Linked DNA regions of Homo sapiens: region 2 is linked to region 1. Evidence: fine-mapped QTL for protein levels in blood plasma. Region 1 holds a variant in brackets. A gene starts in the other region. All regions are shown on their reverse strands.

Region 1 (16,366 bases):
ATTCCAGTCCTGATTCTGCAAATAAATGCTACAAGACTTTGAGCAAAGTACATAATCTTGTAGAATACTTGTTTTCCTACTTATAAAGCCTAATGTTCTTTGTAGTTCTAATATTCTCAGTTAAGATAAATATTTTTACTTTATTTAGCACACAGTATTCTTTGGTATAAAATCCGAATAGAAATAAACACTAAGTCCACTGAATTAAATCTGTGTGGAACTCTAGCATATACCTATCCCATTCATACCTAAATGCCAAATATTTTAAAATCTTTGTTTTAGCTAATCCAGTTTGATAATTTAAAAGCAAAAACATGTAGCCTAAGAATAATCAGCTCTTATTAAGAAATTATTTATCATGAATTTGAAAAAATAAACGAGGGAACTTTGAAACAACTGTGTAACAGCTGTATAAAAGCATAGCTCTGCAAACAGGCCACAGGATTCAAATCCAGTTCTATATAAATTCTGTGACTTAGAGGCTAGCCACACAGACAATTAGTTAGACTTAACCAAGTCTCCGTTTCCTCAACAGTAAAATATGGGTAATAGTAACACCTACCTTCATCAGGTTGTTGTGAGAGTAAACAATAAAGCACATACGGTCAGCAGCAACTAGCACAGTCCAGCAACTGGCGCATAATGAATGCTGAATCAATGCTACTATTGTTGCACCTAAAGGTAAGTTCTGCATTTATACAACTGACATTTACTGACTGCCAAGTGTTATGCTAGGAACTAGAGAAATAAAAGAGCATAAGTAAATAAACATAACACAATCTGGGAAGACTTCCTCTAGGACATGACAACTGAGTATTAAAAGGACGAGGAAAGACCGGGTGCGGTAGCTCGCACCTGTAATCCCAGCACTTTGGGAGGCCAAGGTGGGCGGATCATGAGGTCAAGAGATCGAGACCATCCTGGCTAACACGATGAAACCTCGTCTCTACTAAAATAAATACAAAAAATTAGCTGGGCATGGTGGCGCGCACCTGTAGTCCCAGCTACTCGGGAGGCTGAGGCAGGAGAATGGCATGAACCCAGGAGGCAGAGCTTGCAGTGAGCCGAGATCGCGCCACGGCACTCCAGCCTGGGCGACAAAGCAAGACTCCATCTTAAAAAAAAAAAAAAAAAAAAAAAAAAAAAGGAAGAGGAGAAATTATCCAGGGAAAGCAAAAGAAAAGAAGGTTCCAAGAAGATAAAAATCACATATATGAAGACCTAGAAATATCCCTAAGATGGCACATTAGAACTGTAGTAATTCAGCATGGTTGTATTGGAGAACAGGGATATGAGGTAGACAGGAACCAAACTATGGAATATTATATACCAAAATAAGGATCTCACATTTTATCTTCAAGGGAATCAAGAGCCTCTCAAGAATTTTAGTAAGAGTTAAATTTATACTTTTTTGAGACAGGGACTTGCTCTGTTGCCCAGGCTGGAGTGCAGTGGTGTGATCATAACTCACCCTAGGTGTGACCTTCCAGGCTCAAGCAATCCTCCCACATCAGCCTTCTGAGTAGCTGGGACCAAAGACGTGCGACACCATGTCTGGCCAGTTTTTTAAATATCTTTTTATAGAGACAAGGTCTCCCTATATTGCCCAGGCTGGTCTTGAACTCCTGGACTCAAGCGATTCTTCCACCTCCACCTCCTAATGTGCTGGGATTAAAGGCGTGAGCCACTTTGCCTGGCCTAAAGAATGGTCTGTAACCAGGCGATGCTCATCAGCATCGCCTGGTTAGTTTTTTCAAACTATATACATCCAGATCTCCCTTTCAGAAATTATTGATTAGTAGTTCTGACATGTGACATGGGACCCTATAAGTTCACTTTGAAAAGTTCAAAAGAATCATTATCTTAGATAATCTGATAAATACTGTGCAGAACAGAACAAACCTTAAAGAGAGAAGGCCAAGATCCTACTGCAGAAATCCAGGTAAGAAATTATGAGGGCAAAACAGTGGCAATAGCTAGATACTTAGGAATTCTTAAAAAATACAATTGAGAAGACTTGCGGGGAAGACAGGAATCATGAATGACAGTGAGCCACCCATAAGGCTGAACAAACATGGACGGTTTCAATTTTGAAAGCACTGAGTTTGAGGTGTTAAAGAGACATGTTGTGAGAAATAATTGAAAGAGGGCTAATGAATATTCCTACTTAGGACTCAGAAGAGAAATCTGAGCTGGAAATAAAAAATTGGGGATCGTTACAAATTGAGTGTTTTTTGAAGTCATGGAAGTAAATGAAAATGTCCAAGAGTGAGTCACATCAGAAGTGGGCTAAGGGCAGAAATTATAGAGACACTGCTTTACACATATGACCAAAATACATTAATTTCCTGCTTCTCAAGGATGTTACTTATCTGCAAATCAAAATTCCTTGCAACTCAACTGAAGTACCACTCTTCCCTCTTCCACTTAAGATATCACAGAAATAAATGAGTAACAATACTATTATAGGGTGTATTAGTCCATTTTCACACTGCTATAAAGAATGATGTGAAACTAGGTAACTTAAAAAGAAAAGAGGTTTAATCGACTTACAGTTCAGCATGGCTGGAGAGGCCTCAGGAAACTTACAATCATGGCAGAAGGTGAAGGGGAAGCAAGGCATGTCTTCACAAGGTGGCAGGAGAGACAGCAAGTGCAAGGGAAACTGCCACTTTTAAATTGTCAGATCTCACGAGAACTCCTTTACTATCGTGAGAACAGCATGGTGGAAACCACCCCCATGAGCCAGTTACCTTCCACATCAAGGTCTCCCTTGACATGTGGGGATTACAATTTGAGATAAGATATGGGTGGGGACACAGAGCCAAACCATATCATAGGGATCAACTCTATCTTATTTAAAGACAATGAGTAATCATTCATAACTTGGTACTTTTTTATTTTTTTATTTCTTCTAAAAAATAATGGGATACATGTGCAGAACATACAGGTTTGTTACACAGGTATACATATGCCATGGTGGTTTGCTGCACCTACTGACCCATACTCTTAAGTTCCTTCCCGTCTTCCCCCACCACCCCCAGGAGGCCCTGGTGTGTGTTGTTCCCCTCTCTGTGTCCATGTCATAACTTGGTACTTTTAAAATCAATTACCTGAGATGCAGATTTAAGGGAAAGGTAGAGGAAGAGGAAACCATAAGGAAGAATAAGAAAGTTTAACTAAAAACTTAAGAGGAAAACCAGGAATGTCTCCAAAAATCAAAGGAACTGTAAGTTTCAAGAAAGGAGGACTAACTGCTGCAGTAAGATTAGACAGCTAGAGAAACCGTTTGAGGAGACAGTAATAATAAATCAAGCACAGCTATAACACACATATTACATATACATTACCTATACAATTATTACATTGTACTATCTCCTCCCACAACCCCTCGCGCTACAAAGTTCTGTGGACCAGAAGGCTAGGACCAAAACAGAAAAAGCCAACTGGAACAATAAAGTAGTTATAACAGTGGCATGAGGGAGGTAGGAAAAGGTATGGAACAGGAAGAAGAAAGTGCTTGTAAATCCTAATTTATGGCCTAGATCTAAAATGTCCATTTTGATTTTTACTCTATTTACCTTTGATCTTAAAGTTTTTGTTTAAAAATTCTCATTATATTGGCAGTGTAGCTGCAGAACATTTCTAAGGTATCCATTTCAACATGCTCAACATTATTTTCAAGGGAAAATTTCAACTTAAGTCTCTATGTCTTTACTGAGTATATGCATGCAAAAGGTAGGAGTGAAAGGCATACACAATGACAAAGTTCCTGCCATCATGACCTATTGTTAACTATGGGGTATTAAACCGCATACAAGTGTCTAGCCAATTCTACAAAATAGAATAAAACAAATATATGGCAGAGCAGGGTAAATTAATTTATTCAACAAATATTAGATATTATGTACCAGGCAATGAGCAAGGCACTGGGGATATAATAAAAGGATAAGTCTTTGAAGAGCTTACAGTTTAGTTGTGAGACAGGGTGGTAAATAAAAGGAAACCAACTAATAAAACAATTATAAACTCTATCAAATGAATAAAGAAGAAAAAAGTCTAAATATAGAGATTATGGGAGAAAGAGGACACAGTAATCAGCAATGCCTCCTGAAGAAGGGATCTTAAGCAAGCCCTGCCCCAAACCAAAGGAAGAGAAAGAACAGTTAGGAAAAGGCCTGAAGTGGGAAGAGTCTGGAACATAGAGAAGCTGAAAGAAGACCAGCATATTGTGAGTGTACTAAGGGAAGTGGGTGAGCAGTAGGAGATCGTGGAAAGGTAGTAGTTAACGGTCAGACATGGAAAACCTTGTGGGCACAATGAGTCTGGATTTCATTCCAACTGCAATGGAAAACCAAAGGATTTTTAAGCATGGGAGTGTCTAAATTACATTTTTTTAAACATAGCTACCTGCTACACAACTTCCCTTAGTTTCCGAACTAAAATCGATACCAAGGGAATCCTAAAATCAAAATACACCTTATAATGTCATGACCACACCCCCCCCATACACACGACTCCCAAGTAGCTCCAAGTTTCATGAGAAATTGCTTTTAAAATAAATGTTAAAGGATCTAGAGTTTAGGACAGGCGCAGTGGCTCACGCCTGTAATCCCAACACTTTGGGAGGCCAAGGTGGGTGGATCACCTGAGGTCAGGAGTTTGAGACCAGCCTGACCAATGTGGCAAAACCTCGTCTCTACTAAAAATACAAAAAAACTGGCCAGGCATGGTGGTGTGCGCCTGTAGTCCCAGCTACTTGGGAGGCTGAGGCAGGAGAATTGCTTGAACCCAGAAGGCGGAGGTTGCAGTGAGCCAAGATCGTGCTACTGCACTCCAGCCTGGGCCACAAGAAGGAAACTCTGACTCAAAAAAAAAAAAAATGATCTAGAGTTTAATGAACTTGGCTACCAACTGCTGAATAATCTCACGTCATCTTTTAGTTTAAAAAAAAATCAGTGAAAATATCAAATCGATAAAGCTGTTGATGATAAAAGATACTTCCCTTCCTTGAACCCAATTTTAGAGAAAATAGAGGTAGAAGAGGCAGATGAGTCAAACATGCTAAACTTTTCAAGAAATGAATGAGCAATAATAAAAAAGACAATCACAAGTGTGGCACAGACATGGGGAAATTGGAACATCCATATATTTCTTTTCATTTTTTGAGATGGAGTCTTGCCCTGTTGCCCGGCTGGAGTGCAGTGGCGCGATCTCAGCTCACTTCAACCTCCGCCTCCTGGGTTCAAGCGATTCCCCTGCCTCAGCTTCCCAAGTAGTTGGGACCATAGGCGTGTACCACCACGCCCAGCTAATTTTTATATTTTTAGTAGAGATGAGGTTTCGCTCTGTTGGCCAGGTTGGTCTTGAACTTCTGACCTCACGAGATCTGCCCGTCTCAAACTCCCAAAGTGCTGGGATTACAGGCGTGAATCACTGTGCCTGGCCCATATATTTCTGATAGGAATACAAAATGGTACAACCACTTTAGGGGAGAAAAATTTGGCAATTCCTCAAAATGTTAAACATAAATTTGCAACAGTTCCACTCCCAGATACTTACACCGGAAACATGTTCATACAAAGTGTTACATGCAAATGTCCATAGCAGCATTATTTGCAATAACCAAAAAGTGGAAACAACCCAAATGTCCATCAAAAGAGTTCGGATAAACAAAATGTGCTATGTCTATGCAATGAAATATTATTCGGCCATATACATCATTAATGATCTTTACCAAAAATCCTATTTTGTACAAATGATACACTCAAGTTGGTTAAACAGAAGATGTTTGTTTTCACTAAGAAAGGTCAAATTAGTAGTATGGAATTTCCTATCTAGTGGGGTGGCAGAGTATATTAAAAAACCAATATATCAGTTCCAAAGAGTATTCACAACAAAAAGAGACAGATGTTGGCATTTGTAACTGATGCCCAAGAAAAATACTGCCAAAGTCAAGGCAGCTAAGAATTTCTGTCTGCTGTTTCACAGGGAAATAATGAAATGTGATGGTGATATGGCATATGCTTGGCTACATCCATGATAACAAGAGCCACCAAGGCCTGGATTGGACAACTCCAAAATTGCATTTCATCATCTTCTTTTTCTATTTGTCATCATTTGCATTATCAATCTTTCTTCTGGACAAAGACAAGATTTTTTGGTCCCAAGTTTTCCCCTTATTTCCAATATTTCAGTATTTTTTTTGTAATGCTTTCCTTTTCTTTTGAGAAAGTGTCTCATTCTGTTGCCCAGGCTGGAGAAGAGAGGTGATCATGGCTCACTGCAGCCTTGACTTCCTGGGCTCAAATGATTCTCCTGCCTCAGCCACCTGAGTAGCTGAGACTCCAGATGCATGCCACCATGCTCAGCTAATTATGTATTTTTTGTAGAGACGAGGGTCTCCCTATGTTGCCCAAGCTGGTCTCATACTACTGGGCTCAAGGGATCTGTGCCTGCCTTGGCCTCCCAAAGTGCTGGGACTACAGGCATGAGCCACCGTGCCCAGCCTATGCTTTTCTTTTAAAAGAAATACATCCATCAAAGCAAATTATTTTGTGTTTGCATGTACTAACTACCTGTAAATACCAGGCATGTTTATTTAGGAGACAGACAAAAGTGGTTATATGGGCCCTGGATGGTTATCTCTTATTTTGGCTACAAAGGAATGAATAAAAATGAACTAACATATAGCTGGTTACTTCTCAACATGTAACACAGTTCATATTTCCATGATTCAAATGTATGGGTGCTACGAAATGTTTTTTTCAGCTTTTTCAATGTATCCTTTTGTTTGTGGCTTAGTCTTTCATTTACCAAATTAAATTTTCTCCCTTGTTTGAGAAAACCGTAGAGTCAATTTTTCACTACAACACAATTTTATGTATTATTATTAACATAGTCTATTATTTCTGGCATTAGATAAAGGAAATCTGTCCAAAAATACATTTATCACAATTCACATCTGAATATGAACTAGAATTACAAATGTTTTCATATCTTTGGTTTAATACAAGAATTTAATAACATTTTAGGGTAGAAAAGAATATGTTCAGATGAATCAAAATCCAAAATTGTATTACTCATTTTATACTCAATGTGCTGTTCTTTCCTTACAAACTTTTAGAAAAGTCATCTGAAATCATCTAGAAGCTTAAAAAGTTTGATGCTTCTGTTTTCCTAAGGAAATGTCCACAAATTTGTAAGCCAAAGACTTATAATAAAACCAGTAGTATTTTATCCTGTTGTAACGGTACTATACTACTTATACTATTTTAATTGTACTATACTATTAGAAGATTGACTTCAAGTACTAAAACCAATGAAATATGTATAGGTTGCCTTAAAATATCCTACCTATTGTAGTTATATCAAAAAAATTTAAGTCTTTATCTTTCAGAGTTCTCTTTCATACTATGGTTGAAAGAGATACATAGCCTGAAATTTGCTTTGAAATGATACATGGGAGTTGGGAGAGAATGTAGGGATATGCATGAAAGAAGACTGACCATGTGCTAAAATTGTTGAAGGTGGGTAATGGATACTCAGGGGTTCATTATACTTTTCTCTCTAAATTTGTTTGGTTTGAAATTTTCTGTACAAGTGTTGTTGTTGGCCAGGCGCAGTGGCTCATGTTGATAATCCCAGCACTTTGGGAGGGTCAGGCAGGAGGGTCACTTGAGCCCAGAAGTTTGAGACCACCCTGAGAAAATAGCAAGACCCCATCTCTACAATGAACAAAAACAAAAATATACCCGAATTTAGCCAGGCATGGTGGCACATACCTGTAGTCCTAGCTACCTGGGAGGCTGAGGTGGGAGGATCACTTGAGCCCAGAAGCTTCAGGTTACAGAGAGCCACTGTACTCTAGCCTGGATGACAGAGTAAGACCCTGTCTCTTAAAAAACGGAGTTTTGCTCTTGTTGCCCTGGCTGGAGTGCAGTGGCGCCGATCTCGGCTCACTGCAACCTCTGCCTCCTAGGTTCAAGCGATTCTCCTGCCTCAGCCTCCCAAGTAGCTGGGATTACAGGCATGCACCACCACACCTGGCTAATTTTGTATTTTCAGTAAAGACAGGGTTTCACCATATTAAT[C/A]AGGCTGGTCTTGAACACCTGACCTCAAGTGATCCACCCGCCTCAGCCTCCCAAAGTGCTGGGATTACAGGTGTGAGCCACCATGCCCAGCCCAAATTTTTTTAACTTAAAAAAAAAAAAAAAAAAAACTAAAAAATAGTCTTTTTTATAGTAGAGAAAATCAACTTTAAGGTGGCTAATTCTTGTTCTGCATTATTAATTCACAACAAAGGCTAATGTAAAGGAAGAAATTATAATGAATTTTAGAGGAGTATATATTTTGAAACAAGTTACACACCAAAAAAAATTATAACATATTAATCAAATGTCATAACACACAAGTTTACTATCTTTTAAATTTTCCCTAATAAGCATATCTGTTAAGAGCAAATAGTAGACATACTGTGAAATATGCTTGATATCTATGAAGATGGTGCTAACATGACCTTCTTAAAAGGCAGCCCAGTAGATCAAGATTAATTAGCTGGTATACTAGATTAGCTTTTAAAAGCAAGTTTGGAACTTTCAACTCCTATGCCTTATTAAAACACAACTTACGAGTCTTAGAAACAATTCTAATCATTACCATGTTAGAGGATCAGATTTGAGTCAAAAACTTGCTGTTTAAAAAAAAGTAATACAAAGGTATTAACAAATAGCAAAAGACCATCTCTAAGTTTTGGGTTTCTTGAGGAGTTGGAGTTTCTGGCATAGGCACAGTTCTACTTAATTCCCATCCTTCCGAAGGGTTCACACTTTTACTTTGACATCATTCCACCAGTCCCTTGTGGCTCTGGCCAAATCAAACTCTGACTTGAAGTAGTTTAATGTCTAAAGTTTTAGTGAGAATAGTACCAGCTGCTTTACCAGAGTAATGTTCATCTTGCAGTTTTGCTCAACCTGAGAAATGTTTTAAAACGTTAAGCCATCTAATTTAAGCAGATCCAAGCAAAAGTATTTTAGCTTATCCACATATTTGTGTTTGCTTCACTGGGTCAGACAAATCTGGTCTCAAGTTACTTAAACAGGATCAGTGATCACACAGTAATGAGAATGATGGCATTAGGCCATATGAAAATTTCATTATTTTATGTTTAGTTACACCCCATAAATGCCTACATGCCTAGCAACATAGGACAAGCTACACGGTCAGGATCCCTAAAGAGTTGTTAACTTACAGAGGCCAAATTTAAACTCTGAAATATTAGACAAGTAAAAGTAGAATATCCCCCATTAAACATATTCTTTATTAAATCAGTATTCATTGAACAGTTATTATATGCCAGGCAAGTGGGGGAAAACACAGCTGAAGTTCTACTGTCAAAAAACACCCAAGCTAAAGGACAGAGACTACAATAAACAAGAACAGAGAAGTATTTATATCAAGGATTGATAAATGTTATGAAGAAACCTTAAGCAGGGTTGATGGTGATGGGGGTGCATACCATTCTTTTGAGGGTACTAGCAGAGGCCACTGATCAACATGAGGAAGTCACGCAGATTATCTCAGGGAAAAGTGGTCCTGGCACAGGAAAAAGCACAAAGACCCTAGATAAGAGCATTCCTAACACCATTTTAGGAACAGTGAAAAAACTGTGTTTCACTCAAAGGTAAAAGAGAAGATGGTTCTGCAAAAAAAAAAAAAAAAAAAAGAGTGGATATGCTGAAACCAGGCCCACATCCTCTCATTTACCTCTTCATATTATACAGCATCCATACACATATTCATATTCACGGCTAGCACATTAAGAAATGCTTACTACTGGCTGGGCGCAGTGGCTCACACCTGTAATCCCAGCACTTTGAGAGGCCAAGGTGGGTGGATCACAAGGTCAGGAGTTAGAGGCCAGCCTGGCCAGCATGGTGAAACCTCGTCTCTACTAAAAATACAAAAATCAGCTGAATGGGGTGGCGCATGCCTTAATCCCAGCTACTCAGGAGGCCAAGGCAGGAGAATCGCTTGAACCTGGGAGTTGGAGGTTGCAGTGAGCTGAGATTGCACCACTGCACTCCAGCCTGGGTGACATAGCAAGACTCTGTTCCCCTACAAAAAAAAAAAAAAAAGAAAAAGAAATGCTTACTATTGCCTTGACTGCAGAAAGGCCTAGACTGGAAAGCCCTGGCTAGACTGGCCTGAGTCAATGTAAGGAAACTGTGTTAGTAGCAGCCTAGTAACAAAGTCACCCAGCATGTAGCCGAAATTAAAACACCAGAAGCAGCAATAGGGATAAACATTAAACAAAGAAATAAGATTTCCTGTAAGCAAGTTAACCCAAGGAACAGATAAGTTTTTTACAAAACTTGTAGTCTCATTTGAATTAGGGGCAAAAGAAACTTACTGGGGCTGGGTGTGGTGGTTCATGCCTGTAATCCCAGCACTATGGGAGGCCAAGGCGGGTGGATCACTTGAGGTCAGGAGTTCCAGACCAGCCTGCCCAACACAGTGAAACACTATCTCTACTAAAAATACAAAAATTAGCTGGGCGTGGTGGTGGGCATCTGTAATCTCGGCTACTTGGGAGGCTGAGCCAGGAGAATTGCTTGATCCCAGGGGTGGAGGCTGCAGTTGCAGCAAGCTGAGATCGCGCCACTGTACTCCAGCCTGGGCGACAGAGCAAGACTGTCTCACAAACAAACAAACAAACAAACAAACAAATAAAAAACTTACTGAAGCACCCTGTTTCCCAAGGTAACATTTTTTCTTCTCATTTCAAAAGTTAGCACTTCCAAGTCATTGTTCAATCATTTCAATGAGCCTGCCCAGTCCACTTTGTTTGTAAATCTGCAACGCCTCCTCCATCCACATCCCATTCTGCCTAATTCTGCTTTTCTTTTTCTGGTATCACCTCCCAACATACTAGATAATGTACAGTTATGTTCATTTTCTAATTAGCTGTCTCAACCCATTCACCTCAGGATCTTGGTTTTGTTCTCTCATGTATCCCAAGCCCCCAGAATAGTGTCTAGAATATGAGAGGTGCTTCAGTTAAAATCTCTGAACTACCCATACCCTACGGCAACCATTCAGTCTGGTATAAGCCCATGTCCCCAAGTTTTCTGCAAAAACTTTTGGCAAAAGTATGCTCTGGGAAAATGATTCTAATTTTTTAAATAATGGAAAATATAACCTCCCAGCATAAATGTTAAATCCCAAAGACCCAACATCCTTCTTCAAAGTATTCTATCATTAAACCTCTTTCTGACTTCATTTGCCAATTCTATTTAATCCTATACCCTCAACTTCCCAAAAGGATTTTTCCCTGAAAGCTTATGATTAATAGCACGGTCTCTGAAGTTACACCTCCTGGGTTCAAATCCTGCCTCTGCCACTTACTAGCAACGATATTGGACAAATTAATAAATCTCTCTTTGCTTGAGTTTCCTTGTCTATATAACGGGCTAACAATAGTACCTACATTCTAGAATTATTATGAGAAGTTAAATGAGATAACACTATAAAATTATTAGGCCAGTGCTCAGCACATAGTAGGCATGTAATAGACACTATCACCTACAATGGCAAAGGCTCAGTTCTCAGCCCTTCATTCTTCACCCTCAAAGACCTTAATCTCTGAGATTCCACTATTGTCTCTATACACATGTCCAGTCAGACTCCTAAACTCACCTGTCTGGTCTTGTCAGCTAAGGAAAAATACTTTGGGGAAAACAGAAGCGTTGGAACAAAGGAAACCTGGTGGGACTTTAGATCTGGTGCTCAAGGAAGTTCTTTGCGAAGAGATGATATTTAAGGAGATAAGAATGTCAAGAAGCCAACACTGACAAGATCCAGGTCAGTGGTTCTCAAAATCTCCTCACTGGACAAGCAGCATAAGAATCACCTACAAACTTGTTAGAAATGCAAATTCTTGAGCTCCACCCAAGACCTATGGATTCAGAAACTCTGGAGTTGGGCCCAGCAACCTGTGTTTCAACAAGCCCTCTGGGTGGTTCTGAAGTACCACTGAGCTACAGCAAGATCCTGCCAGGGAAGGGAACTGCCAGGCTTGTTCCTGCCTTGCGACATTTGCACTTGCTGCTTCCTCAGATCTCAGGGAAGTGCACTTCCTCTAGGAGAAAATTTTCTCAATAATTTGCCTGCCCGACTCCTTCACCCAAGAATGTAAACTCCACAAGAACAGAGATTTTATGTGGATTTTTTTGTTGTGTTTTTGAGACAGGTCTCACTCCCTATGCCCACACTGGAGTGCAGTGGCACAATCATGGCTGACTGCAGCCTCCACCTCCCAGGCTCAAGCGATCCTCCCACCTCAGCCTTCTAAGTAGCTGGGACCACAGGCGCATGCCACCATGCCAGGCTAATTTTTGTATTTTTGTGGAGACGGGGTTTCACCATGTTGCCCAGGCTGGTCTCAAACTCCTGAGCTCAAGCCATCAGCCCATCTCAGCATCCCAAAGTGCTGGGATTATGGGCACAAGCCACCACGCCTGGCCATTCCCTATCCTTTAGAGTGGAGAGACTAAACTCCATGATCTGTCATCAGAAGCCCTCTAAAATCTAGTACCAACGCTCTGTGGTACAGTGTTACTCTGGTGAGCTCCCCAATGAACCACACCTTTGTGTAGTTTCCCTCCCATGACAATTCTGCAATGGACCAGGGACTGCTTTGACCAACAGACTGGCAGAAGTGATGCTGTGCCAGTTCAAGGCCCAGCCCTTAACTGGCCTAGCAGATTCCATTTCCTCCCTCTTAGAACACTTATTCTTAGGAGCTCCTTCTTTGTACTAATCCCTTATTCCACTATGCAACATTAGCAATAATTCAGATCAGTTTGTATGCAATCTACTTGACAAATGCTACCATGATCCCCTTGAACTCAATATAATTTTCCCCACTAAGTCCCTGAATTATTTTTGTACCTCTGGAATAGTCTGGCAAGTATTAATAGCAGTTATTTCATTCATTCATTGAATGTTTAATGGCACAATGCATCAGACATTTTTCTCAGTGCTGACAATAAAGTTAATAATCTATATGCTATCCTATATGCTAGACATCACTCTAAATACTTTTCTAAGTTTTTCCATTTAATCTTCAAGAATTCTAAGTGTCCTCATTTTACATAAGGAAACTGAGGCACAGAGAGGTTAAGAAACTTGTCTAAGATCATACTGCAAGTGGTGGAGTCAAAATACAAACTCAAACATTATAACTCCAGAGCTTATGCTATCAACTACTATACTAACCTGCCTTGTACAGATGTGAACAAGACAAAGAGCCCTGTTCTCATGGAACATGCATTCTATCAGTGATGGTTAGTGGTATCGGGAAAGGGTGGTAATAAACGATACATATAAATCAACAAAATTACTCCAGAGAGTGAGAATGCTCTGAAGAGGTAAAACTGTCATGTGTCAGTGATGTGCAGTTACTTTAGACAGGGCAGTCAGAGAAGGCCTTTCTGAGAAGGTAACATGTGGGGAAAGACCTAACAATCAGCAAAAGCAGAAGCAGCAAAGCAAAGACCTGCAAAGAAAACTTCAGTTAAAGAGAATAGCCGGTGCAAAAGTCCTAAGACACAAATAATCTTAGCATGTTTCAGGAACAGAAGTAAAGCCAGTATGGCTGAAGGATGGTGGTGGGAGGGGAATGACATGAGGTTGGAGAAATTAGCTGAGGCTTAGATCATGCAGGGCTTTGTAGGCCACGATAAGTCATTCGATTTTTTTTTTTTTAAGATGGAGTCTTGCTCTGTCACCTAGGCTGGAGTGCAGTGGTGTGATCTCAGCTCACTGCAGTCTCCGCCTCCTGAGTTCCAGCTATTCTCCTGCCTCAGCCTCCCGAGTAGCTGGGACTACAGGCACCTGCCACCATGCCCAGCTGATTTTTGTATTTTTAGTAGAGACAGGGTTTTGCCATGTTGGCCAGGCTGGTTTTGAACTCCTGGCCTCAAGTGATCCTGCCTCAGTCTCCCAAAGTGCTGGGATTACAGGTATGAGTCACCACACCTGACCAAGTCATTGGATTTTACTGATTAACACTGGAAGGTTCTAAGCAGGGTAATGACATTACCTGACCTATACTTTTGAAAAGTTAATTCTGGCTGTTGCATACTTAATAAATTACAGAAGGCCTAAAAGGAGGCAAGAAAAGCAACAGGAGGCAACTGCAATTATCCATGCAGGAAATTATGGATATGGAGATTGAACCAACAGGATTTGCTGAGGGACTCAATATGGGAAGGAATGAAATGAATCATGGATGGCTCTAACCTTCTGGACATAAGCAATGGAGTAAATGGTGATAATAATTACTGAGGTGGGGAAGGCTAGAGGAGGCCCAGGTTGAGAGGGTGACAATCATGTTTTGGATATGTCATTTTGGAAATACCTATTCAATATTCAAATGAAGATGTCAGATGCTAGATATGAATCCAGAGATGTAAATTTGAAAGTCATCTCACATATATGGCAACTACACCTAGGGTCAGTGGAGAGAAAAGAAAAAAGGACAGAACTCCAAGTTTCTGAGCACTTCAACATTTAGAAGCCAAGCAGAGAGGAAGCAAGTGCATTACCCTCTCACCCTCCAGATCACAAGTTCTTTCAGAGGCAAGACAGTGTTTTTTTTTTCATTTTTGTGGCACCCTGCAGAACTCAGCTGAGAAACAGAAACTGAGAGATGGCCACTACATTTTAATGAGTGATTGCATGCTTGTCACTTGATTTCTCAAGCTTTCACTGCAGAAATATAACTCAAGGAGATACAGGTAACACTGCCTTAACAATTGCAGGTACTCAAATATTTGTTTAATGAATAAAAGAAAACTGTGTTTTGGTAGACATACTTTAGTACTCATTGTTCCAGAGAACATACCAAGGAAAGGAAGAAACAAGTAGTAGCCCATATCCCCACCCTGCTAACCAAAGATAATCACAAACTTACCCTTCATCTTGGTCCCAACTACAGGGTAGAGGGGGAATGGCATTAGAGGCTGCAACAGGAAGAAAGGGGCTTCCAATTCCCACACTGAAGCAGAGTTCTGGCTTTCATGATATAAGTATGTATTAAGCACCAACTATATGCCATGGATTAAAGTAAATACTAAGTACTACAAATATAACAGCAAAACACATAGGGGTTCTTCAAATAACCTCCATTCTGAAGAAGATACGTATTACATAAACAATACATAGGTATATATTTCTAAGAATATGAAAGTAAAATAAAATATTCTGTGAAAACATATACCATTGCACAAAGCAACAAGGAGTGAGGGTTGAAAATACTGCAGGTTTCTCACATGAGATACCTTAACAAGTCAGTCTGGGAGGTGGGGATAGGGTGAGAGTTATCTAAGTGAAGGTAAGACGATGTATGAAAACCTTAAGGTAAGAAGGAATTTAGGATGATTCAAAGAATTTAATACAGGCCAGTGCGAGGCATGGTGGCTCACGCCTGAGAGGCCAAGGCAGGAAGACTGCTTGAGGCCAAGAGTTCCCGACCAGCCTGGTCAACATAGCAAGACCTCATCTCTACAAAAAATTTAAAAATTAGCCAGGTGTGGTGGCACATGCCTGTAGTCCCAGCTACTTGGGAGGATCACCTGAGCCCAGGAGGTCGAGGCTGCAGTAAGCTGTGTTCATACCACTGTACTCCACCCTAGGCAGCAGAGTTAGACCCTGTCTCAAGAAAAAATAAAAAAGAAAATAAATTAAAAAAAATTGGTCAGTAAACGCAGAGCCATACAGAGCACATTACAATGTGTGTGTGTGTGTGTGTGTGTGTGTGTGTGTGTGTGTGTGTGTGTGACAGGTTCTCACTCTGTCGCTCACACTGAAGTGCAGTGGCACCATCACAGCTCACGGCAACCTCCACCTCCCAGGCTCAAGCCATCCTCCCACCCCAGCCTCCAGAGTAGCTGGGACCACAGGCGCACGCCACCATGCACGGCTAATTTTTTCTATTTATTTTTTGTAGAGATAGGGTTTCACCACGTTGCGTAGGCTGGTCTCAAACTCTTGGGCTCAAGCAATACTCCCACCTCAGCCTCCCAAAGTGCTGGGATTACAGGCGTGAGATATCACGCCTGACCATATTACAGATGTTTAAAAATGTGACCCTAATATGTAGGAGTAGCCATGGAAAGGCTTTAAGCAAAGGACCAAGAGCAAACTTGTAGATCTGTGTTTTTAAAAATCACTCTGGATGGTATAAGAAGAATGAATTGAAGAGAGGAAAGAAAAGGTCCAAGATGACTAAGTTAGGAAGCTACCACAGTTGTCCAAGTGAAAAATAATGGTGGCTTGGACCAGCTGGAGCAGTGGATACAAA
Region 2 (8,000 bases), not on the chromosome of region 1:
AGGATGGCTAGACCTAAAACCCTGGTTTCCTGATTCTAAATCCATTTCTTCTACATCTTGGAAATAAAGCATAAGAGCAGCTGGAAACAAAATTAAATCATAATGGCTACACATCTGAAGTTTCTTATATGTTCCAATTTCCTAAATTGATATAACTATTCCAAGTTATAAATCTGCCTAGGTGTAAATATCATAACATCATGGACACATCTTGCATCACTTTACTTGTTTAGGTTATGAATTCACTATACAGAGATTTATGTACTACTGAGAAAAACTAAATTAACAAATAAAATACAATTTTACCATGAGCTCTTCCTTACATTGAGTCATAATTCTCTCCATATAAATTTTACCCTTTAGTCTGGGAAGTAAAATACATGGGTTCTCATATTTCTTGTTTGAACAAACAATTAGGCTTCAAGCATAAGTATGAGATTTAAGACGGAGATCCAAACCACAGACTTTCCACAAAATCCAGAATGCTGGATTAAAAAGGGTCTATGTGTATCTAGTAACTCAGCAGTTATCAATACGAATGATTTTGCTTCCCCAACCCCCACCCATCAGTGGACAGCTGGCAATGTCTGGAGACATTTTTGGTCATCACAAAGTAGGGGTGGGGGTGGGGTGCAACTACTAGCATCTAGTGGGTAGAAGGCAGAGGTGCTGCTAAACATCCTAAAGTGCACACAGGACAGCCCCCACAACAGAGAATTATCAGGTCCAAAATGTCAGTAGTGCAGAGGCTGAGGAACTCTGTAGTAACCCGATTCAATCGATAAAAGTTCAATCGATAAAAAAACTGTGGCCCAAAACGTTAAAGAACTTGCCAAGGTCAGGGGAAGGTTCATGAAGAATCAAAACTAGAACTCAGCTGGGTGCAATGGCTCACACCTGTAATCCCAGTACTTTGGGAGGCCGAGGCGGGCAAATCACGAGATCAAGAGATCGAGACCATCCTGGCTAACATGGTGAAACCCTGTCTCTACTGACAACATAAAAATTAGCTGGGCGTGGTGGCGCATGCCTGTAGTCCCAGCTACTCAGGAGGCTGAGGCAGAAGAATTGCTTAAACCCGGGAGGCGGAGGTTGCAGTGAGCTGAGATCGCACCACTGCACTCCAGCCTGGAGACAGAGCAAGACTCCGTCTCAAAAACAAACAAACAAACAAAAACTAGAACTCAGGTGTTTTGACTCCTAAACCAAACTATTTCCTACAAAGTTAGAGAATGAAGATGAAGATGGGGGAAAGACTCTTCTGGTTTGTAGCATTCATTGAAAGCTAATCCACTTGGAGGTCATATGGTCTCTATCAGAATTAAGCCACTCCCCAAAAATACTTTTTCCCTGGAAGCTCTTGTTTCCAAAATTCCATTCCATTCAACACATTTTTTTGGTTGCCAACAGACAAATGGTACACTTTTGAGGAAATAAAACCCCTATAAGGCACCAAAGATAATACAATAGGGTCACCTAAAAGAACTCCACAGAGGCCAAGGTGGATCACTTTAGGTCAAAAGTTCGAGACCAGCCTGGGTAACATAAGAGGACCCCGTCTCTACAATTCTTTTAATTTTTTTAATTAGCCAGGCATGGTGGTGCATGCCTGTAGTCCCAGCTACTCAGAAGGTTGAAGTGGGAGGATCATTTGGGCCCACAAAGTTGAGGCTGCAGAGAGTCATGATCGTGCCACTGCACTCCAGCTTGGGTGACAGAGCAAGACCTTGCCTTCATAAAAAGAATTCCACAAAGAAGACTCTTTCATCTTTGGATACAATGCCTGCTCTTGAGCATGAGACAGCTTTCATCTTTTACTCCTGTAGAGTAAAAGCTAAATAGCTTTCTATCAGCATTCAATTCTTTCTGGAATAGAAAATCACCTCAGTTTCAAGCATTTTATATTGAGTACTGTGTAGTAAAGATTTTGGCTTTGCCTAAAGAGAGGTCTGGGCTTTGCCTTGGCTTCTGAGAGGTGATCTATGTTATTTCTGATAGGAGTGTTTTTGTTTAGGGTGAGATCAGCCACACCTGATAGTCTTGAGGTAGAGGTGGCTATGCCAGGAAGACCAACCACGTGATGTAGGATAAGGGATTTGGGTTATGTAGTATCAGTGGACCAGGAGGCTGAATTCAATCAATCAATCAATCAAACCTATTAATAAAGCCCCAATAAAAACTCTGAACACTGAGAATAAGCTTGCCTGGTTGGCAATACCCCACATACACTGCCACATATCAACGTAAGGCAATGCATCCAGAGAACAATGGAAGTTTCAAGTCTGGAGCCTTCTAGACACTGCCCCTACGCATCTCCCCCTTTGGCTGATTTTAGGGTGTATCCTTTTTCTATATAAACCATAATCATGAGTATAATGGTCTTCAGTGAGTTCTGAGAGTTCTTCTAGGGAATTATCAAATGTAATAAGAGTGGTTCTAGGAATCTCCTGAAATTGCTGTTGGTATCAGAAGTGCGGGTAATACCCATCTTGCCAGAAGACTATTTCCTCCTCTAGCTGTGAAGAAGCAGGCTGCAATGTTGTGAGCTGCCCTTTTGAGGAAGTCACATGGCAAGGAACTGAGGGAGGCCGTCAGTCAACAGCTAGCAAGAAACTTACGTCCACAGTTTCACATTCTGCAAGGAACTGAATGCTGTCAACAACCACATGGGCTTAGAACTGGATCATTCCCTACTCAACCCCTGAAGTGAGGCTGCAGTGCCAGATGCACTTCAAATGCAGATCCTGAAGCAGACCATCAAGCAAAGACACGCCAAATTCCTGACCCACAGAAACTGTGAGATAATAAATGTGTGTTATTTTAACTAAGCCATTCCTTTGTGGTAGTTTTTTACACAGTAATAGATAACCACTACAATAGATGAACAGTGGTATTCTTCAGCAATGCAACATTAGAGGAATGTTTCTAAAATGCAAACAGGATCATATTTAAGCCATCACTGGCTTAAAAATCTCTACATGGTCTCTCACTGACTACAGACTAAAGCCCAAATACTTTAGCAGGATATAAAATACTTTCTTTAATCCAACCTCTATTCCCCCTGTCTAGTCGCATCTCTTAATATGGTCCATCCCCCTGACTTCTTCTCTCTCTCCCTCCAAGCTCCAGCAGTATGCAAAACAAATTATAAATTTTCTGAATGATCTACCCCCATCCCCTCCCTAAGGGGAGCACGTGATGATCCCCTTGCCTAGAATACCTCATCACCTGCGCTTACCCTCCTCTCCTATCCTCTCTATAGAAGTCAGTTTGGGTGCAGTCTCCTTGACTCCCAGTCAGTTTGTGGCTTCTCCCAGGTTATCACAGAACTCTGCATATTTCTGTGTAGCAAGCCCTACCATGGATTCTAGTTGCTTGTTTGCTGCTTTTCCTGCTGACTTAGAGGCTATAAATCTTCCTTGAGGGAAGAAACTGAAGTTTGCTTATCTGAGCTTACGTGTCTGAAGTCCTGGCACAGAATTGGCGCTCAATAAACTTTTATTAAATGAGTGAATGCTAATAACATTGTATTCACTGGTCATAACTTTTCAAGGAAAGTTGTTCTTCACAAAATAATTTTCTGTAGTACAAAGCATCAAAGTGTACCATTAATGAAACTATGAATCTCTAAGATTCTCTAAATTTGGACATATGGTATCTATCCAGCTTACTTCTCAATATCTTGTTAACTTGCCACACAATACAAAACAAATCAATGTCTGTTGTTTCATTATTATATATTTCAAAGTATTTAAAAAAGTTTTACTGTATCCTTGAAGCCATAAAACCAACAATTTATATCAACTCAAGCCAGACAATATCACAATTAAATTTAAGATAATTCACATTCAAATAAAAACTTCAGTGCTCAAGTCTTAGTTTATTTAAGCTTTGATTTGAAAGGTTCTAAAACAATTTTGTCTAGAAAAGAAAACAAATTGTTATTCTTTCATTTTCTATTTTAATAAAATATATATCCATATTTGTTAAATTTTTAGCTTAAAGGAGAAAAGTTAATTTGATTGGTAAAAGCACCAAGGAGGAATTTTTTAAAAGTGACTCTTTAAAAAAATCTTCAAAGTTGCTTGTATGGTATCTACAATGCCACTTTAATTTTTAAAAGCCAATTTCAATATTAAAGTAATTTTATAAAGTTTCCTTCATTCAGCAAACAAAAGTATCTTTTACTATCAACCTCAAAAACTATAAATCAAATTTACTTTTAAAAAGCTAATTTTTATGCATCAGTTTTTCTTATATGTAACTAAAATAAAGGGGAGAAAAAATCCAAATGACAAAACTATCAAATAATTTGTGCTAAAACTAATTTTTACACTGGAAAAATATATTACACTGGCTATATATTAATTATGGTATTAGGGCAATATTTTTAATCCTCATAAAATTAACAACATGGACTATGTTGTCATTTGGTGTCCTATTTCATTCAAAAAGCAGATTGTTTGATCTCCTGGGAAATCACCAAAATGAAAAGGATGACTTTAAAACTATATCATTTTTCATAAACTAATATTCACCAAAACATGAATGTTTATTACACAATAATAAAATCACACAAGTTTATAGTCAAATTAGTTGAAGCAGACTGAGTGCAGCAGTTACAACAAATAACTTAAGCACAGTTCTCTAGTACAACACACTGCATTTCACCCTAGAGAAAGAATGCTGGCAAAGATCTCTACCACATGGAAACTGTTCTTAAAGCTGCTGGGCCCTGAAATTTTACTCAGCAGTTTGAAATCAAGACATAGCTTTTCTCATTCACCCTCCCACTTGGGGCTAATGCACAGACATGAACATCTATTGAGGAAAACCACAAAAAACTTCAAAACAGCTACAACGGTAGGCTTACTTTTCATATATTATTTTAAATATTGTTTGTTAAAGTGCGACTGACTCATCTAATAGTCTTAATAAATGTAAAGGCCATCTCTGGTTTAAGTTTCAGTTACCTCAATTAATTTTTAAGAAGTACTTATGTATATCATCGCATAAATTTAACATCCACGCAGGCAAGAATAGGGTGCTGCAGAAGTCACAAATCCATTATCTTCTTCATTTTCAACCTCTGGATTTTTGACAAACTGGCATCTATAATGCAGCATCAGCAACTCTTGAGTGATTCTGTTTGAAGTTACTTAAGAAAAAGTCTGAAATGTGTACCCACCAGAGAAAATCCATTGATGAGCCTAAAGGAATCCTTTCTATTACATTCCTCAAAGTTCTTTGATTAAAGTTCGGTATTTCCTCTAGCCTGCAATACTATTCTTTCAGTTTTCTTAGCTTAAATTAAAAATACAATACTATTAACTAAAAATTATGATCACCTATTAAAATTACAAAACTAAGAAAATTAAAAACGTATGGCTTTTCCTATATTCTGTACCACCTAAAGGTGTTAATGACTACTTTTCATAATGTTAAATTTAAGTTTTAAAACTTTTCTTGGAACTTGTTTCTGTTCATACCAATATAAATCAAGAGTTCTTATAAAGTAGCTAAGTGGAAATATGATATTTTTAACTCACATGAGACAGGATCTTGGGACTTTATTTTAACTATTTATACTACAGGTATCCTAAGAATATTTCAATTAAATATTAGTATGTCTGCTGAAGGCACTTAATTATTAAGAAACTTAAAATTATCAATCTTTCTTGAATTTCTGATAGAGAAGTAAAACTATTTTCCAAAACTATTTTTCAGAATGTTCACTGATACATAAAAACTGCTAGCATCTAATTAAAGATCACTAAGGGTTAAATACTGTTCTCTGGCCCTTACTGCGCACACCCTGCCAAAACATCCTCTAAGCTTTTAAATATTGCTTCGATGGTCTGAATTTTTATTTCCAGGGAAAAAGAGAGTTTTGTCCCACAGTCAGCAGGCCACTAGTTTATTAACTTCCAGTCACCTTGATTTTTGCTAAAATGAAGACTCTGCAGTCTACACTTCTCCTGTTACTGCTTGTGCCTCTGATAAAGCCAGCACCACCAACCCAGCAGGACTCACGCATTATCTATGATTATGGAACAGATAATTTTGAAGAATCCATATTTAGCCAAGATTATGAGGATAAATACCTGGATGGAAAAAATATTAAGGTACTTTATTTCTATTCTAAATTTAGCTTCTAAAATACTGCCCATTTAAATGCATGTTTTTGCTTTTCCTGAATGTGTCTGATAAGGTAAGGGGAAGGGAAAATCACTTTAAATGATTCAAACGAATTCATAATAATTGTCCCTAAGATTGTATTTTTAGAGTATGTATGCTTTCCAAATTAATAAATGGTATCTATGGTAACCAAACAGTATCTATAGTAACCAAAAAATAAAACTTAAAGAAAACTAGACTTTAAGATGATCCCTCACCAGTTGCAATTTATATATTAAGTAATGTTACACAATGCCCTATACTTGCAATGTTGTGTTGCCTCAAAAATAAATTAGCGGAAATGTGTATTTGGAGAAATAAAGATGAATTATCAGCTTAAGGTTATTATTATAGAAAACAATTTGAAGAAAATACATAGAAGAGTACTGGTTATTTTGATATCAATAGCATTCCACAATAATTTATATATGCCATCTACATACAGTACCAAAAACTGAAAACCTAGTCAATATAGGACTTTCTTTTTAAATCAATTTTAACAGTTTAGACCCTCTATCAATTGGTACCAAGTAACTGTAACTGTCTTTGAGTTAACACTGCAAGGGTGACGTTATACCACATCATTCATTCCCCACCTTTATGGGCAAACTAATTACTTGTGGTTTTCTTGGCACACAGAAATGAATGCTGGGTAAGGAAAAAGTTAATACAGCACTTAAGTATCTGTTGCCCACTATGTATGACACATACACATACACACTGGAAAATGAGAAATTCAGCCAAATATATAACAATACTGATTGTTTCAGAAGTTCTTCTCCACTATAAATTGGAGGATAAAGACTTATAAGATTGACCAGTTATAATTGCTACTTTCTCTTTTCTTTTTTGCAGGGGTACACAATGAGCAAATGTTAACACCACAGTTTCTTTCTTTCAGTTAATGCTTTTAATATGATAGCATTATTTTTGCCCATCACTAAGACACAAAGGATAGGTATTACTAATTATAGCTTCAAGTTAAAGAAAAAAAAGTCCCATCATAACATAGGCTATTGGCTCACTTGGATGATTTGAATCTATTAAGATTCCCTGATCCCTAAAGAGTTTAGAGATTATTTTTCTCTCTGCTTCTTCTCTTTACAGGGCTTTAGAAGTTTCTCTATCTTAATATAAATGCAGGGTCTAAGATATTTGTGGAGTGGAGTAGAATTCAACAGGACTTGATGTGCAAACACAGAGTAGAGGGAGGAAGTTCAACCACCACACAGATGGGAGAATGAAGGTGAAGGGCAGAGTCAGGAGTCAAGACCGAGACTAAAATGGAACATGCTTACAAAGGACAGAAAGAATAGGACACCACATAATACACTGTAATCTAATGGCAGAAAACGTACTCTCCAAGAACAGGAAAGACAGGATCTAAATTGTATCTACTCCAATTTCCCCAGAATTAATGGCCTACCCCAGTGGCCCAAGCAGGGTAGGTAAGGTAAGCTGGAATAAAAGGGATCCAAGAGCCAGGGCTTAATGGAGGGATATAGGTAATTAAAGGGTCACCCCAAGAAGAGACCTAAAGACCTTAATTGGTAGTTTATACTTGTGACATGGCTGGAGCTCTAGTCTTACTCAAAATGGTAGAATCTGAATGAGAAACTCAGTTCAGACAAGACCCCTGAGGAACAGTTTCACCTCAGAAAAACTTTCATTCCAATTCAGGGAATTCTCACCTAGCTTTCATTTGGAATTTCAGGATGTTCAACATTTATTAAGCACTGAGTGTAGCTACTGGCGATATAAAAATAAAAACACCCAGTTCTTTTACTCAAGGAGCTCATAGTCTAGAATAAAAACAAGCTAAA

Which allele goes with the higher level. Alleles are on the strand shown, and positions count from the first base shown. The strength of an association depends on the size of the effect and on how common the allele is.
With allele C in place of A in region 1, the plasma level of the protein whose gene starts at base 4,781 in region 2 is higher (weak association).

The links. A credible set is the group of variants that fine-mapping cannot tell apart. PIP is the posterior inclusion probability: the model's chance that the variant is causal. Protein levels are from antibody-based Olink assays in UK Biobank. Linkage for the fine-mapping came from a reference panel and not from the study's own genotypes, which makes the PIPs less certain.
Region 2: OGN starts here. The variant in region 1 is the best candidate, but not a certain one, in a credible set for the plasma level of the OGN protein (UK Biobank, PIP 0.54).

What each region holds. Positions count from the first base shown.
Region 1 is chr11:32,897,960-32,914,325 of GRCh38, reverse strand. The region is part of intron 1 of QSER1 (glutamine and serine rich 1); the gene reads right to left. Among named protein-coding and RNA genes, the nearest start is that of QSER1, 13 kb to the right of the region's middle. RefSeq lists an enhancer at 14,543-14,732. The variant C/A (reference allele first, on the strand shown) is at 8,094.
Region 2 is chr9:92,401,359-92,409,358 of GRCh38, reverse strand. OGN (osteoglycin) reads left to right here and starts at 4,781. Exons shown (of 7, transcript NM_014057.5): 1 at 4,781-4,863; 2 at 5,877-6,125. The coding sequence starts at 5,952. All of the region lies in intron 5 of CENPP (centromere protein P), which reads right to left.